Homo sapiens: one gene and its partners. The protein of the gene in region 1 purifies or fractionates together with the protein of each later gene. This does not show direct contact. Each region holds a gene or a part of one and is shown in the gene's direction. Other genes may lie near its edges.

The links.
Region 2: the proteins of NUBP1 (region 1) and FNBP1L purify together in Homo sapiens (affinity purification with mass spectrometry; one large-scale study listed by BioGRID and IntAct). This does not show direct contact.
Region 3: the proteins of NUBP1 (region 1) and ZBTB10 purify together in Homo sapiens (affinity purification with mass spectrometry; one large-scale study listed by BioGRID and IntAct). This does not show direct contact.
Region 4: the proteins of NUBP1 (region 1) and ZBTB21 purify together in Homo sapiens (affinity purification with mass spectrometry; one large-scale study listed by BioGRID and IntAct). This does not show direct contact.

Annotation. Positions count from the first base shown.
Region 1 is NC_000016.10:10,757,342-10,760,841, forward strand, and holds part of NUBP1 (cytosolic Fe-S cluster assembly factor NUBP1), read left to right. Parts: exon of another isoform or gene 1-531; coding exon 532-686; exon of another isoform or gene 687-936; intron 937-3,500. UniProt on the Homo sapiens protein: Component of the cytosolic iron-sulfur (Fe/S) protein assembly (CIA) machinery. Required for maturation of extramitochondrial Fe-S proteins.
Region 2 is NC_000001.11:93,528,118-93,531,617, forward strand, and holds part of FNBP1L (formin-binding protein 1-like), read left to right. Parts: intron 1-1,534; coding exon 1,535-1,639; intron 1,640-2,637; coding exon 2,638-2,766; intron 2,767-3,500. UniProt on the Homo sapiens protein: Required to coordinate membrane tubulation with reorganization of the actin cytoskeleton during endocytosis. May bind to lipids such as phosphatidylinositol 4,5-bisphosphate and phosphatidylserine and promote membrane invagination and the formation of tubules.
Region 3 is NC_000008.11:80,489,226-80,492,725, forward strand, and holds part of ZBTB10 (zinc finger and BTB domain-containing protein 10), read left to right. Parts: intron 1-3,500. UniProt on the Homo sapiens protein: May be involved in transcriptional regulation.
Region 4 is NC_000021.9:41,993,361-41,996,860, reverse strand, and holds part of ZBTB21 (zinc finger and BTB domain-containing protein 21), read left to right. Parts: intron 1-2,752; 5' UTR 2,753-2,765; coding exon 2,766-3,500. UniProt on the Homo sapiens protein: Acts as a transcription repressor.

The DNA of each region.
Region 1 (3,500 bases):
GGCTTATTTGGGTCAGAGAGGTGAGATCAACAGGAGGTTGATCTGGTACTGAGACTTAAGGTAATAATGTGAAAGTGTTATCAGGGCAAGCTTTAGCCTCAGCACTATTGATATTTTGAGCCAGATAAGTCTTTGTTGGGGGGAGGAGTAGACCGTGTTCTACACCATAGGGTGTTAAACAGTGTCCCTGGCCTTTACCCACAAGATGCCAGTAGCACCCCCTACTCTATTTGTGACAACCCAAAATGTCTCCAGACATTGCAATTCACTCCCAGTTGAGAGCCACTGACTTACAGCATAGACCAAAGGCACAAAAAGATCAGATCATGCTTCTCCGTGAGCTGGGCACAGTGGCACGCACTTATAGTCCTAGTTACTTGGGAGGCTGAGGTGGGAGGATTGCTTGAGCCTCAGAGTTAAGAGCCAACCTGGGCAACATAGCAAGACCCCATCCTTTAAAAAAAAAAGAGGGAGTTGAAAGTACAGAAAAGAAAGGAAAAGTAAGCATCCCCTGTGGATTCCTCTTTCTAGGCATGATCAAGCAGTTCCTCCGAGATGTGGACTGGGGAGAGGTCGACTACCTCATTGTGGACACCCCACCTGGGACGTCGGATGAACACCTCTCGGTCGTCCGGTACCTGGCCACAGCACACATCGATGGAGCAGTGATCATCACCACTCCCCAGGTGAGCGAGCTGCCAGCTGGAGCTGGGTCCAAACTGTGCTCCACACTGTGAGATTTCTTTCCTACCTGGCTCTGATACTCTGGTCTCACCAAGGCTCTTCCCAGTGTGTGTTCCGCAGCTGCATCTGATGTGGGTCTGCAGAAACCTCGTGTTAAAAACTTCAGCCAGCACAGTGATTCACACCTGTAATCCCAGGACTTTGGGAGGCTGAGATGGGAGGATCACTTGAGCCCACGAGTTCGGGACCAGCCTGAAAAACATAGCAAAACCCCATCTCTACAAAAAATATTTTAAAATTAGCCAGGCATGGTGGCTCGCGCCTGTAGTTCCAGCTACTTGGGAGGCTGAGGTAGGAGGATCATTTGAGCCTGGGGAAAGGAGGTTGCAGTGAGCCATGATCACGCCAGTGCAGTCCAGCCAGCGCAAGCGAGTGAGGCCTTGTCCCAAAAGATAAAAATAAGAAAAACTTCATCTTTGGTCTAGACATTTGCAGCTGACAACCATTCAACGATTTGGTTTTTTTTTAGTCCATGGATTAAACAATAGTGGGTCAAGAATGCTTTTTGAACTTTCCTTGAGGAAACTAGGGAAACCACCAGTGCAGTTATAATTCATACTGTGCTGCCTGGCCCCGTCAGCCTTGCCGTGTCCATGTGTCAGGTCCCCCAGCCTACAGTGGATTTTCCGTTTACATCCCAGGATGATTTAGGAAATCTCTCCAGTTTTCAACAGAACCAGCTGGGTGCAGATAGGGATTTCGGGATAAGCCACTGGGTGCCTTCGCTTCTTCCGTAGTGACACCCAGCAACCCTCTGTAGCAGTCACCTAGTGGCTGTACTCCAAGGCCCATGGTGAGCCCGAGCTGAGAGGAGAGCGATAGGAAGTTTCCTCTCTGTAAGTCCTGCAGAGAGCAACTGCAGGCAGGACCATGGTGCTATCCATCTCAGGGGCCTGAGAAACTGAGGGCTCTTCTCCATCTCCACAGTTACGCCTGACTTCTCTTCATGACGTTCTCCTCCACACTTAAGAAAGCCCAGCAAAGGAGGTTTGATTTGATCTCACTGGCCAGAATCAGTCAGGACGACCCATAGTCTCACCTCATCCAGCACTCACTGAGCTCTGACTCTGACATGCCGGGCACCAGGGCAGTAAAAAGGCCTGGCTCTCCCTGGTGGCCCCTGTGGCTCCCTGAGGAACACAGGTGCTGGACACAGGGATGAGGGTACAGCCAATGGAGTGGCAGGCCCAGCGGCCATGGGAAGGGTGTCCGGGTCAGAAAATGGTGCAAGATTCATGTCCACCCTGGCATCCTGCAGAGAGGGGACATGGGGACGCAAGGAGGAGCAGGACACCAGCTGGGACCCTGGACAGGAGGGAGGATGGCCTGGCCCGGGTGATGGCAGTGGAGAGAAAGTGTATTTGTCCTTAGGAATGTTTTCTGTCCCATTTTTAAAAAGTGGTTGGTGCTGGGCACACTGGCTCATGTCTGTAATCCCAGCACTTTGGGAGGCCGAGGCAGGCAGATTACTTGAGGTCAGGAGTTCGAGACCAGACTGGCCAATATGGCAAAACCCTGTCTCTACCAAAAAAATACAAAAATTAGCCAGGCGTGGTGGTGGGCACCTGTAATCCCAGCTACTTGGGAGGCTGAGGTGGGAGAAGTGCTTGAATCCAGGAGACAGAGGTTGCAGTGAGCCGAGATCGCGCCACTGCACTCCAGCCTGGGCGACAGAGCAAGACTCTGTCTCAAAAAAAGAAAGAAAGAAATGAGAGACTGAGTCGCAGCCCATTGACTTTCTAGCTGAGCGCCCCTTCCTCCGCATCCCAGCCTCAGTGTCAAGAGCCAAACAGGCATCTCAGGAAAAGAACAGGCCCAAAGCTGCGAGCCTTTCGGGCTCACGTGAGTGGTGAAGCTCCAGGTGCTAAGGAGTCACTACACCTGACAGTGACAAGCCACAGCAGGACTTGGGTACAGGGATCTGTGATAACATTAACTGAGGAAAATAGGGAGCTACTGAGCGGTGTTTATACACAGTAATCACATTGGAAAAACTCAGAGTTGAGAAGGAAATGCAAAGTTGTCCACATTGGGCAGTATTCCTTATTTCCTTTTAGTCAGTTGTTTGTGTTTATAATTATCTAGAGCAGGGATTGGCAAACTTTTCTGTAAAGGGCCAGATAGGAAGTAGGCGTTGCGGACCCCACGGTCCCTGTCCCAGCCCCTTAGCCGTGCCACTGTGGCATGAAGCAGCCACAGACGGTGCCTAGAGGGACGGGCATGGCTGGTTCCGGAGGAACTTTATTTATAAAACCAGCCAGATTCAGCCCCCAGGCTGGGGTTTGCCAAGCTCTGGTCTAGAAAACAGTGCACACACTGGCTTAATATAGTATAGTATAGGGACATGGAGCATGTAGATGCGTTAAAAGGTCATTTTCAGATAGGCACAGTGGCTCACGCCTCTAACCCTAACACTCTGGGAGGCCGAGGCAGGAGGATCACTTCACACCAGAAGCTTAAGACCAGTCTGGGCAACAACCATCTCTATAAAAAATTAAAAAGTTAGCCAGGCAGAGTAGCACATGCCTGTAGTCCCAGCTACTCTGGAGGCTGAGGCAGGAGGATTGCCTGAGCCCAGGAGGTCAAGGCTGCAGTGAGCAATGATTATGCCACTGCACTCCAGACTGGGCAGCAGTGAGATCCTGTCTCTAAAAAAAAAAGTCATTTTCTTTTAGGTTGATTTCTTGCTATTTGGCTGTGTGGGAAGTAAATAGCACCTCGAACAAACAGGGCTTAGCACTAGTAGGTACTAAATA
Region 2 (3,500 bases), on another chromosome or scaffold:
AGAAAAGAGAAAACATAGAAAAGGAACAAAACATAGAAAAGGACAAAAATAACTCAAGAAAGTTTTCCCAGAACTGAAAGACATGAATTTCCAGATGGAAAGGATATCCCATGTGCTCAGCACAGTGGGTCCACATCTCTTGAAATTTCGAACACTTTGGAGAGAGAGAAGATTCTACCACCCTCCAGGGAGAAAAAACCCCAAACAAACAAACATGGTTTATACAATGGGTCAGGAATCAGAATGGAATAGACAGGATAGTTACACAGGAAGCCAGAAGAATAGTGGAGCAATACTTTTAAGTTTTTGAAGGAAAATGATTTCCAACTTAGAGTTCTATATCCAGCCAAATTTTGTCAATTAAAAATGATGGTAAATGCATTTTTAGCCATGGAGATTCAGTTATCTCCTGCAGACCTTTTAGGAGGCTGCTGCTGAATGTGTTCTAGCAAAATGAGGAAGTGAATCAAGAACGGAGAAAGCATACAACTAGGAAATAGGACATCCAAACAAAGATGGAGGTGAAATGAATCCACAGGTTGATGGGGGAGGGAAATGCTAAGGTAACAACTATGCATTAGGCCTAGTTGGTAATGAGTTCAAATTCCAGCAAGTTTAGAAGCCTTTGGGAAAGATTTATCAAGAAAATAAAATCAATAGAATTCCTAATGTGTTAGAATTAACTGCAGTCAGTTTTAAAGAACTGGAAAAAACTGGTTGAATTATGCATTGGAAACTAAGCAAATTGAAAAAATGAAGACATGTATTAACTCCAGAATATCAAAAAATTATGTAGGAAAGAAAATGTAATATGACATATATTTTACATGGCTCAGTTGTGAATAGTTTTTACAAAGTCATAATAGTTTGAATGAAATAAAATTTAAAAAGATTTGGGGTCTGGGCTGATGTTCTTCGTGGGACACCTGGAAGAAACAATATAAAACCACTTTGGAGGGACGCTCCATATACCCAAGCTACATTGGATCTCACCAAAAAAGTATAAAAATAAATGCCAAAACAAACCAACTGAACAAAAAACACCAAACCAAAAAAGTCCTCCTGAAGATGAGGACTTATATTTTTTATAAAAAAATTATAAAACACACATTTTTTGAGTGAGATATATAATAAATATTAACTCAGTCATGCCTATGTTATTTTTCCTCATAGTCTGTAATTAATGTCTGATATTTAAGGAACGTGGATTGGTTGTAATAGTAAAATTTATTTTCTAATTTAGAAAGGACAAATTTTACTTAGTGCGCAGTTCATTTCCACACAATACACAGTGGCACATTTTAAAGTTATTTCTTTTTTCTCTCTTTTTAAAATTATTATACTTTAAGTTCTGGGATACATGTGCAGGACGTGCAGGTTTGTTACATAGGTATACATGTTCCATGGTGGTTTGCTGCACCCATCAACCCGTCATCTATGTTAGTTATTTCTCCTAATGCTCTCTAAAGTTATTTCTTAAATGAAGTTAGCCTGATTTTATTTTCTCAGTGTGATATTTTAATTTTTTTAACAGAGTAAAAAGAAGTTTGAAAGAGAATGTAGAGAGGCAGAAAAGGCACAACAGAGTTATGAAAGATTGGATAATGATACTAATGCAACCAAGGCAGATGTTGAAAAGGTAAGAAATACTCCAAACCAACTTTAATGTCAAAATATTATTATTTGCATAAGGAAAGTAGTCACGACATTTGTATGACTACAGTATTAGGATTTACTTGAGATACACTGTATCTAAGTCTAAAATATACAAATATTTGCCAACTTTAAATTATACGTATTGGTCTGAGAAAGTAATATATGTTAATTTATTACAATATCTTAGCTGCATTCAAATTTAGAGGAAAGACGTAGTTGCTACTGGGATTGAGTTTTTAGCCTATTCCAAAATAGGTTAGAAAGCTAAGATGTGTTGATGGGGTAATAATTAGTTAGAGAATAACTGTTGTAATTTGACTTTGTACAAGAGATCAAGAGGAACAGAACTGTATTCTAAATAAGCATTCCTTAATTTGACTTTGTACAAGAGATCAAGAGGAACAGAACTGTATTCTAAATAAGCATTCCTTAAAGTATCTGTGGTTCTACACATTGGTGGAAACACTGTTGAATGTTGCATTATTCAACAATCATATTATTATTTAGTTTCACTGTGATTTAAGTTCCATATTTTAGTTGGATATAGTTGGATCATAAATGTTTTACTGTTAACTTTTTTAACAATCTGAAAATATTCCTAAAGCTACCTGTTTTTCTCTTCTGATTAAAAGCACACTGTTTCAAGCTATAATGTTTTCATTTGTTTGTTTTTTTATCTGGATTTGGTAAGGAGAGTCTATATTAGAATGTCTTATTGCTATCAGGGAATACTATTGTAATGAGAGAGGGAAGAATATTGTAATAAGGAGACCACTCTGACAGTAAGATCTGCAGGTGTCTTTAAATATAAAATATATTTTAAATGATATTAATAGTTCAAAAAAGTTATGCCACGTCATTATTCTTTTGATGTCAGGTGTTGGCTTCTTCATTGATAAAATCTAGTTTTAGTATAATTTTCAAAAAAGTGAATTGCTGTGATTTTGTTGTTGATAATAATTTCGACCATTTTGCCCCTAGGCCAAACAGCAGTTGAATCTGCGTACGCATATGGCCGATGAAAATAAAAATGAATATGCTGCACAATTACAAAACTTTAATGGAGAACAACATAAACATTTTTATGTAGTGATTCCTCAGATTTACAAGGTAAATCTTAGATATGAAGTTAATCTAGTTTTAGATTAACTGGTGTTTAAATATAAAACTTGTAAGTCTTAGACATCAGAATCTTTCTAGATTCACTAGACATCAGGGTTGGGGTGAGAGATTCCTTTATGATTATAGATTTGAAAACAAGTGTTTTCTAACTTTTAAGTCACACATTTTCCTACGTATCTACTATTAGTGTTATAAACAGTTTACTAAAACAATGACATTTGTAAGATACATTTAAATACTTTAAGTATTTTGACATGACAAAGGAGAATTAATTGAATTTGTATATTGTAATCTGCTCACCTAGAATTGAGATGTAGCATTTTTATACCAAACCAGAGTCATTGGCATCAGTCCAGATGGCAGAAATAAATCTTACAAAATATATTTGCTAGCATGGTTTTTGCCTGCTTATCATGCTGGCTCTGTTAGATGATAAATGTAATTCAGACTTTGAGCTTGCTTATAAATCCTGTCTGTCATCACTTGATGATAACAGTTGCCAAACAGCCTCAGGTAAAAAAGACCTCAGAATTTTCATGAGGGTTAAATTATTTAATTGCCTGTTCTAGAAAGAAGAGAAATTACAGAAAAGGGATTTAGTAAAGCAGTGTTGATGAGTTATTATCTCAACGAGCAGAGCTTCTGTGGGAAGAGTGTCAGCCCGGGTACACTTTTTCTTCTTTATAAGGCAAGTTGGAAATACAAAGAAAGCACAGTGAGAG
Region 3 (3,500 bases), on another chromosome or scaffold:
TGGGCAATAGAGTGAAATGGAACTAACAGCTCCTGGTTTTCCGTGTGCCAAACACATTTATTCTGCAAAGTATTTATTTTTTGTTCCCATTTTACAGAAGAGGAATCTAAAGCCTTAAAGGGTTAAGTAACATTCCTGAAGTTATGTAGTAAGATGATGGAGTTGCAAGGGACTTGTGAAAATGAAAGTTTAATTTTCCAAATAGGGCTATGTTGGTTACTTAGAAAATTTTAAATGGGATGAATTTTCTTAATCGGCTGTGGACCAATTCCTCTTTATCAGCATAGTCTCTCCCTGTAGGCAAATCTGAATGGGAATGCAAATTATAATTAGCTCCTTTAGTGAACCTGAAATCAGAAGAAGGGGCATTAATTGGATAACCTTAAGGTAGCCTCAGCTTGAGTGTATTCTTCTCCTCTGGGTATGTATCTGCGTCTTGGAATTCCTAGGAAAAACCTTTCTAAACTTGACCCGAACTACGACTCTCTTCCTCATCACTCCTTTAAATTCCCCCATCAATGTAATCTGCAGGCCATCTCCTTTCTTTGGGACATTCTATACAATATACATATATTAAGGGCTACAGTTTTAGTAAGTCCTGTGTGTCCTAAGGTTATATATTGGTCTCCTTGATTGGATTTTGGGTGTTTTCACTTTGAATTGATCTTAATCATTTATTACTTTCATTATAACTAATCTTGAGGGGATATCTTGTTATCAACCCCCCAGGTACCACCTATATAAATACCTGTTTGTCTTAACATGAGTAACATGAGTAACAGGTTCCTGATCTCTTTTGGGCAGAGTGCAATCATTTTGTTTTTCGTTTTTCTTCAGTCTCCAATTACCTATAGGAGGCAGTATAACACAACACGTAATGTAAGCGCCTACTTGGGCTTAAGGTCAGAGGACTTTGCTCTTAAATCTCTACTTTTTAGGCAGGCAAATTAGTTAACTTCTAGTTTCGTTATGTATGCAAAGTATATGTGCCAGCATAAAACCACTTAGTGCCGTTATTTATTATCATTATTACCTTTTTGTTTTGTTTTTTTGAGACAGTGACTCTATTGCCCAGGCTGGAGTGCAGTGGTGAGATAAAGGCTCACTGCAGCCTCCTGGGCTCAGGCATCCTCCCGAGTAGCTAGAACTACAGGTGCGCGCCACCATTCCTGGCTAATTTTTAAGTTTTTTGTTGAAACGGGAGTCTCGCTATGTTGCCCAGGCTGGTCTCAACCTTTTGGGCTCAAGCAATTCTCCCACCTTGACCTCCCCAAAATGCTGGGATTACAGGTGTGAGCCACTGAGCCTGGCCGTTATTACTCATTTTGATCACCAATCAGTTCTCCTTTTTATACCTTCAGAGACTTTGTGGCCATCAGGTTCTTTGAACATTCTGAGCCTATTTCTCATACATGCAGTTTTTCTCAGCTTCACAAAGACACTCTTAATATCTTGTCTTAAAAACATGGAAATGAGAGTTTTAGAATTCTTTAGGCAAGAAATCACTTTGAGTCTAGGAGTACTAAACTCCTATTTTCCCAATTATTTCTCAAAGAGTCCCGTTTCTGAGAGGAATTTGGCCACATCTTAACACAGTCATGTACTGCATGACGTTCTCAAGGATGGACTGCATTTATGATAATGGTCCCATAAGATTATAGCGGAGCTGAAAAATTACTATCGCCTGGTGATAGCGTAAAGTTGTAGCGTACTTTGTTTTGTAATCCCAGCACTTTGCGGGGCCGAGGTGGGTGAATCACTTGAGGTCAGGAGTTCGAGACCAGCCTGACCAACATGGTGAGACCCTGTCTGTACTTAGTGTAGCCTAAGTGTACGGTGCTCATAAAATCTACAGCAGTGTATGGTAATGTCCTAGGCCTTTCATTCAGTCACCACTCACTGACTCACCCAGAGCAGCTTCCAGGTATGCCAGCTCTGTTCATGGTGAGTGCCCTATAAGGTGTGCCATATTTTTACTGTACCTTTTTCATGTTTAGATAGATTAGATACACAAATACTATTGTGTTACAGTTGCCTAAAGTATTCCTTACAGTAACATAGTGTACAGATTTGTAGTCTGGGAGCAATAGGCCCAACCATATAGCCTAGGTGTGTAGTAGGTTATACCATCTAGGTTTGTGTACGCTAAGGCACAGTGACAAAATCGATGCATCTCTCAGATCATATCCCTCTCGTTAAGTGATGCATAACTGTATGTCATGAAAGGTTACTTTCCTCTAAGTAAGAAAAGTATCTTTTTGTTAATCCCTTGGTAGTTACCAAAAAGTTAATCCTTCTGTTAATTGGACCTTGGTTATTGTGGACTGTTCATGGGAAAGTCTTTTAAAACATGCTTTCTGAGTCTGTGTTTTGAGCCTTCTATTTCCGAGGTGTCCCTGTATTTATAAGGATGTGAGGGACAATTAATAGTTTAATTTTGAGTAACAATTGACTACATCGTCAGAGTCAGGTTTAATGATTAGCTCATTCAGTATCTGACCATTTGGCCCAGAAGACTTTAAAATTCCTTAATAACAGTGATTACCAGTTATTCTTGGTTTAGACCACTTTCTACCTAATTGTGAAATTTTCATAGCCTAAATCACACATCCTGTCAACTCTTCCTGGGAGAAACATGCATCCAAATGTATTATTGTTGTAAATTTAGTTAACCTTTACAGAAACTAAGTAATGAATTCAGACCAGTGATCTGATTGAAATTTCCAGTTGGAATATATTGATGTCAGTAGCTGAGCAAACAAAAGAATGTAAGGCAGATCTATCAGCCTAATTTGTTTATGGCAGAAATAAGGGCGGAAGGTTGGTTGGTTGGTTACTTGGTTGGTTTTTAACACTTTAGGAAGAAAGTCTGAAAGACCTTTCACTGAGGAAAAATCGATTAGAGTTGAGCCTGTAGCCCATTAAATTCCGTTGTTTCTTATTTATATATTTTACATTATTTATAATTTATTCTTTGTGTTTTATTCAGTAACAGCTAGTTCATAGCCCTTGTGCTTTTCAAACTTGTTAGCAGTGTCTGACTGTATACCTTATTGTGTACCTAGGATTAGCTTCCTTCTCCATCTTAAATTTAGCTGTATTAGGTTGGCAAAGCACTGGAGATAAAAATCTGTATGTTTTGTTAACATTCATTCTCTCTGCCCTCAAGGAACTTGTAGTTTAGTAAGGAGAGACAGACATGACCGAAAAAAGACACAGATAACATGGTAGCAGTATATAATCAGGGTACATTGAAGAATTTTTTTTTTTTTGAGATGGGGTCTCACTTGTCACCCAGGCTGGAGTGCAGTGGTGTGATCTGGGCTCACTGCAACCTCCGCCTCCTGGGTTCAAGTGATTCTTCTGCCTCAACCTCCTGATTAGCTGGGACTACAGGCACATGCCACCATGCTAGGCTAATTTTTGTATTTCTAGTAGAGACGGGGTTTCAGTATGTTGGCCAGGATAGTCTCTATCTCCTGATCTCGTGATCTGCCCAC
Region 4 (3,500 bases), on another chromosome or scaffold:
TGAGATTTATTCACTATCACAAGAAGAGCATAAGAAAGACCTGCCCCCATGATCCAGTTACTTCCCACTGGGTGCCTCCCAGATGTGGGGAATTGTGAGAGCTACAATTCAAAATGAGATTTTGCTGGGGACACAGCCAAACTGTATCATTCCACCCTGGGCCCCTCCCAAATCTCATGTCTTCACATTTCAAAACCAATCATGCGTTCCCAACAGTCCCCCAAAGTCTTAACTAATTTCAGCATTAACTCAAAAGTCCACAGACCAAAGTCTCTTCTGAGACAAAGCAAATCCCTTCCGCCTATGAGCCTGCAAAGTCAAAAACAAGTTAGTTACTTCCCAGATACAGTGGGGGTACAGGCATTGGGTAACTACAGCCGTTCCAAATGGGAGAAATTGGCCAAAACAGAGGCTTACAGGCCCCGGTGCAAGTCCAGAATTCAGCAGGACAGTCAAATCTCAAAGCTCCAAAATGATCTCCCTTGACTCCATGTCTCACATCCAGGTCAAGCTGATATAAGAGGTGGGCTCCCATGGTCTTAGGCAGCTCTGCCCCTGTGGCTTTGCAGGGTATAGCCCCCACTCCTGGCTGCTTTTATGGGCTGGCATTGAGTGTCTGTGAGTTTTGCAGGCACGCAGTGCCAGCTGTCGACGTATCTACCATTCTGGAGTCTGGAAGATGGTAGCCCTCTTCTCACATCTCCACTAGGCAGTGCCCCAGTGGGGACTCTATGTGGGGGCTTCAACCCCACATTTCCCTTCTGCATTGCCCTAGCAGAAGTTTCTCCATGGGGCCCTGCCCCTCATGGAGGGGACACAGCCCTGCAGCAGACTTCTTCCTGGATATACAGGTGTTCTCATACATCCTCTGAAATCTAGGCGGAGGTTCCCAAACCTCAGTTCTTTACTTCTGCACACCTGCAGGCTTAACACCACATGGAAGCCGCCAAGGCTTGGAGCTTGCACCATCTGAAGCCATGGCCCAAGCTGTACCTTGGCCCCTTTCAGCCATGGCTAGAGCACCTGGGACACAGGGCACCAAGTTCCTAGGCTGCACACAGAAAGGGGGCCCTGGGCCTGGCCCACAAAACCATTTTTTCCTCCTAGACCTCTGGGCCTGTGATGGAAGGGGCTGCTGCAAAGGTCTGACATGTCCTGGAGACATTTTCCCCATTGTCTGGGTGACTAACATTCGGCTCCTCCTTACTTAGGCAAATTCCTGCAGCCAGTTTGAATTTCTTCTCAGAAAATGGGATTTTCTTTTCTATCGCACTGTCAGGCAGCAACTTCTCCAAGCTTTTATTCTCTACTTCCCTTATAAAACTTAATGCCTCTAACAGCACCTGAGAACCTCTTGAATGCTTTGCTGCCTAGAAATTCCTTCTGCCAGATACCCTAAATCATCTCTCTCAAGTTGAAAGTTCCATAGATCTCTAGGGCAGGGGCAACATGCCACCAGTCTCTTTGCTAAAACATAACGAGTCACCTTTGCTTCAGTTCCCAACAAGTTCCTCATCTCCATCTGAGACTACCTCAGCCTGGATTTCATTGTCTGTATCATTATTGGCATTATGGTCAAAGCCATTCAGCAAGTCTCTAGGGAGTTCCAAAGTTTCCCACATTTTCCTGTCTTCTTCTGAGTCCTCTAAACTGTTCCAGCCTCTGCCTGTTACCCAGTTCCAAAGTCGCTTCCACATTTTCGGGTATCTTTTCAGCAGTGCCCCACTCTACTGGTATCAATTTACTGTATTAGTCCATTTTCACACTTCTAATAAAGACATACCCAAGACTGGGTAACTTACAAGAAAAAGCGGTTCAGTGGACTCACAGTTCCACGTGGTTGGGGAGGCCTTTTAATCGTGGTGGAAGGCAAGGAGGAGCAAGTCACATCTCACATGGCAGCAGGGAAGAGAGAACTTGTGTAGGGGAACTCCTCTTTATAAAATCATCAGATCTCATGAGGCTTACTATCATGAGAAGAGAACGAGAAAGACCCACCCCCATGATTCAGTTACCTCCCACTGGGTCCCTCCCACGACGTGGGAATTGTGGGAGTTACAATTCAAGAGGAGATTTGGGTGGGGACACCACCAAACCGCATCACCTGGCAAGGTGGCATGTGCTTGTGGTCCCAGCTACTCAGGAGGCTGAGTGGGAGGATTGCTTGAGCCCAGGAGATTGAGGCTGCAGTGAGCCATCATGGTGCCACTGCACTCCAGCCTGGGTGACAGAGAGATACCCTGTCTCAAAATAAAAACAAGGGTCTCACAAGACCTGCTTTGCAACCAATTGTTAACAGTTCACATTATGTTTAAGTATATGTAGTAATAAAGCTGATTTTCTTTCAGAATTATAGACTTCAGGGGTTTGATAATTCGTACTTGTTTTCTGAATTGGTAAGGAATAGTGCCAAGCATCAAATGGATAAGGACCCTAAATAATAAACCTTTATTTTCAAATATTGCTTCCATATCTACCTGCCAAGTTCTGGCAGCCTTTTTGATGATATACAAATGCCTATATTATAGTTCCTGCAATTCTTCTATTTTAATGAGGACCTACTTAAACCACGAGACTTATTTTACATTTTCACCATTATTTAAATAAGATTGTTCATTCATAGAGCTTCTGTTAGCCTACGGTCTGCTAAATATTGGTACCTATGCAAAGACAGCTGATGTTCCCTGCTCTTGAGGAGCCAGGGGAACTTTTCACTGCAATATCTGTAGTAATTTTACATTTTGTCTTTTAGATAAACTCAAGCCATGGAGGGATTACTGCATTACATCAACCCTGCACACGCCATTTCTCTCCTAAGTGCCCTGAATGAGGAGCGTCTCAAAGGACAGCTGTGTGATGTGCTGCTGATTGTTGGAGACCAAAAGTTCCGAGCTCATAAAAACGTCTTGGCTGCCAGCAGCGAATACTTTCAGAGTTTATTCACAAATAAGGAAAATGAGTCACAAACTGTATTTCAGCTTGACTTCTGTGAGCCAGATGCTTTTGATAATGTTTTAAACTACATTTATTCTTCCTCTCTATTTGTTGAGAAGAGCAGCCTTGCTGCTGTGCAAGAACTTGGCTATAGTCTTGGGATTTCCTTTCTGACTAACATCGTTTCTAAAACACCTCAAGCCCCCTTTCCAACGTGTCCTAATAGAAAAAAAGTGTTTGTAGAAGATGATGAAAACAGTTCTCAAAAGAGAAGTGTCATTGTTTGTCAAAGTAGAAACGAAGCGCAAGGAAAAACTGTTAGTCAAAATCAACCCGATGTAAGCCATACTTCCCGGCCCTCTCCTAGCATTGCAGTCAAGGCCAATACCAATAAGCCACATGTCCCAAAACCAATAGAACCACTTCATAATTTGTCATTAACTGAAAAGAGTTGGCCGAAAGATAGTTCTGTGGTATATGCAAAGTCTCTTGAGCATTCTGGATCTTTGGATGATCCTAATAGAATCAGTTTGGTGAAAAGAAATGCAGTGTTGCCTTCAAAGCCT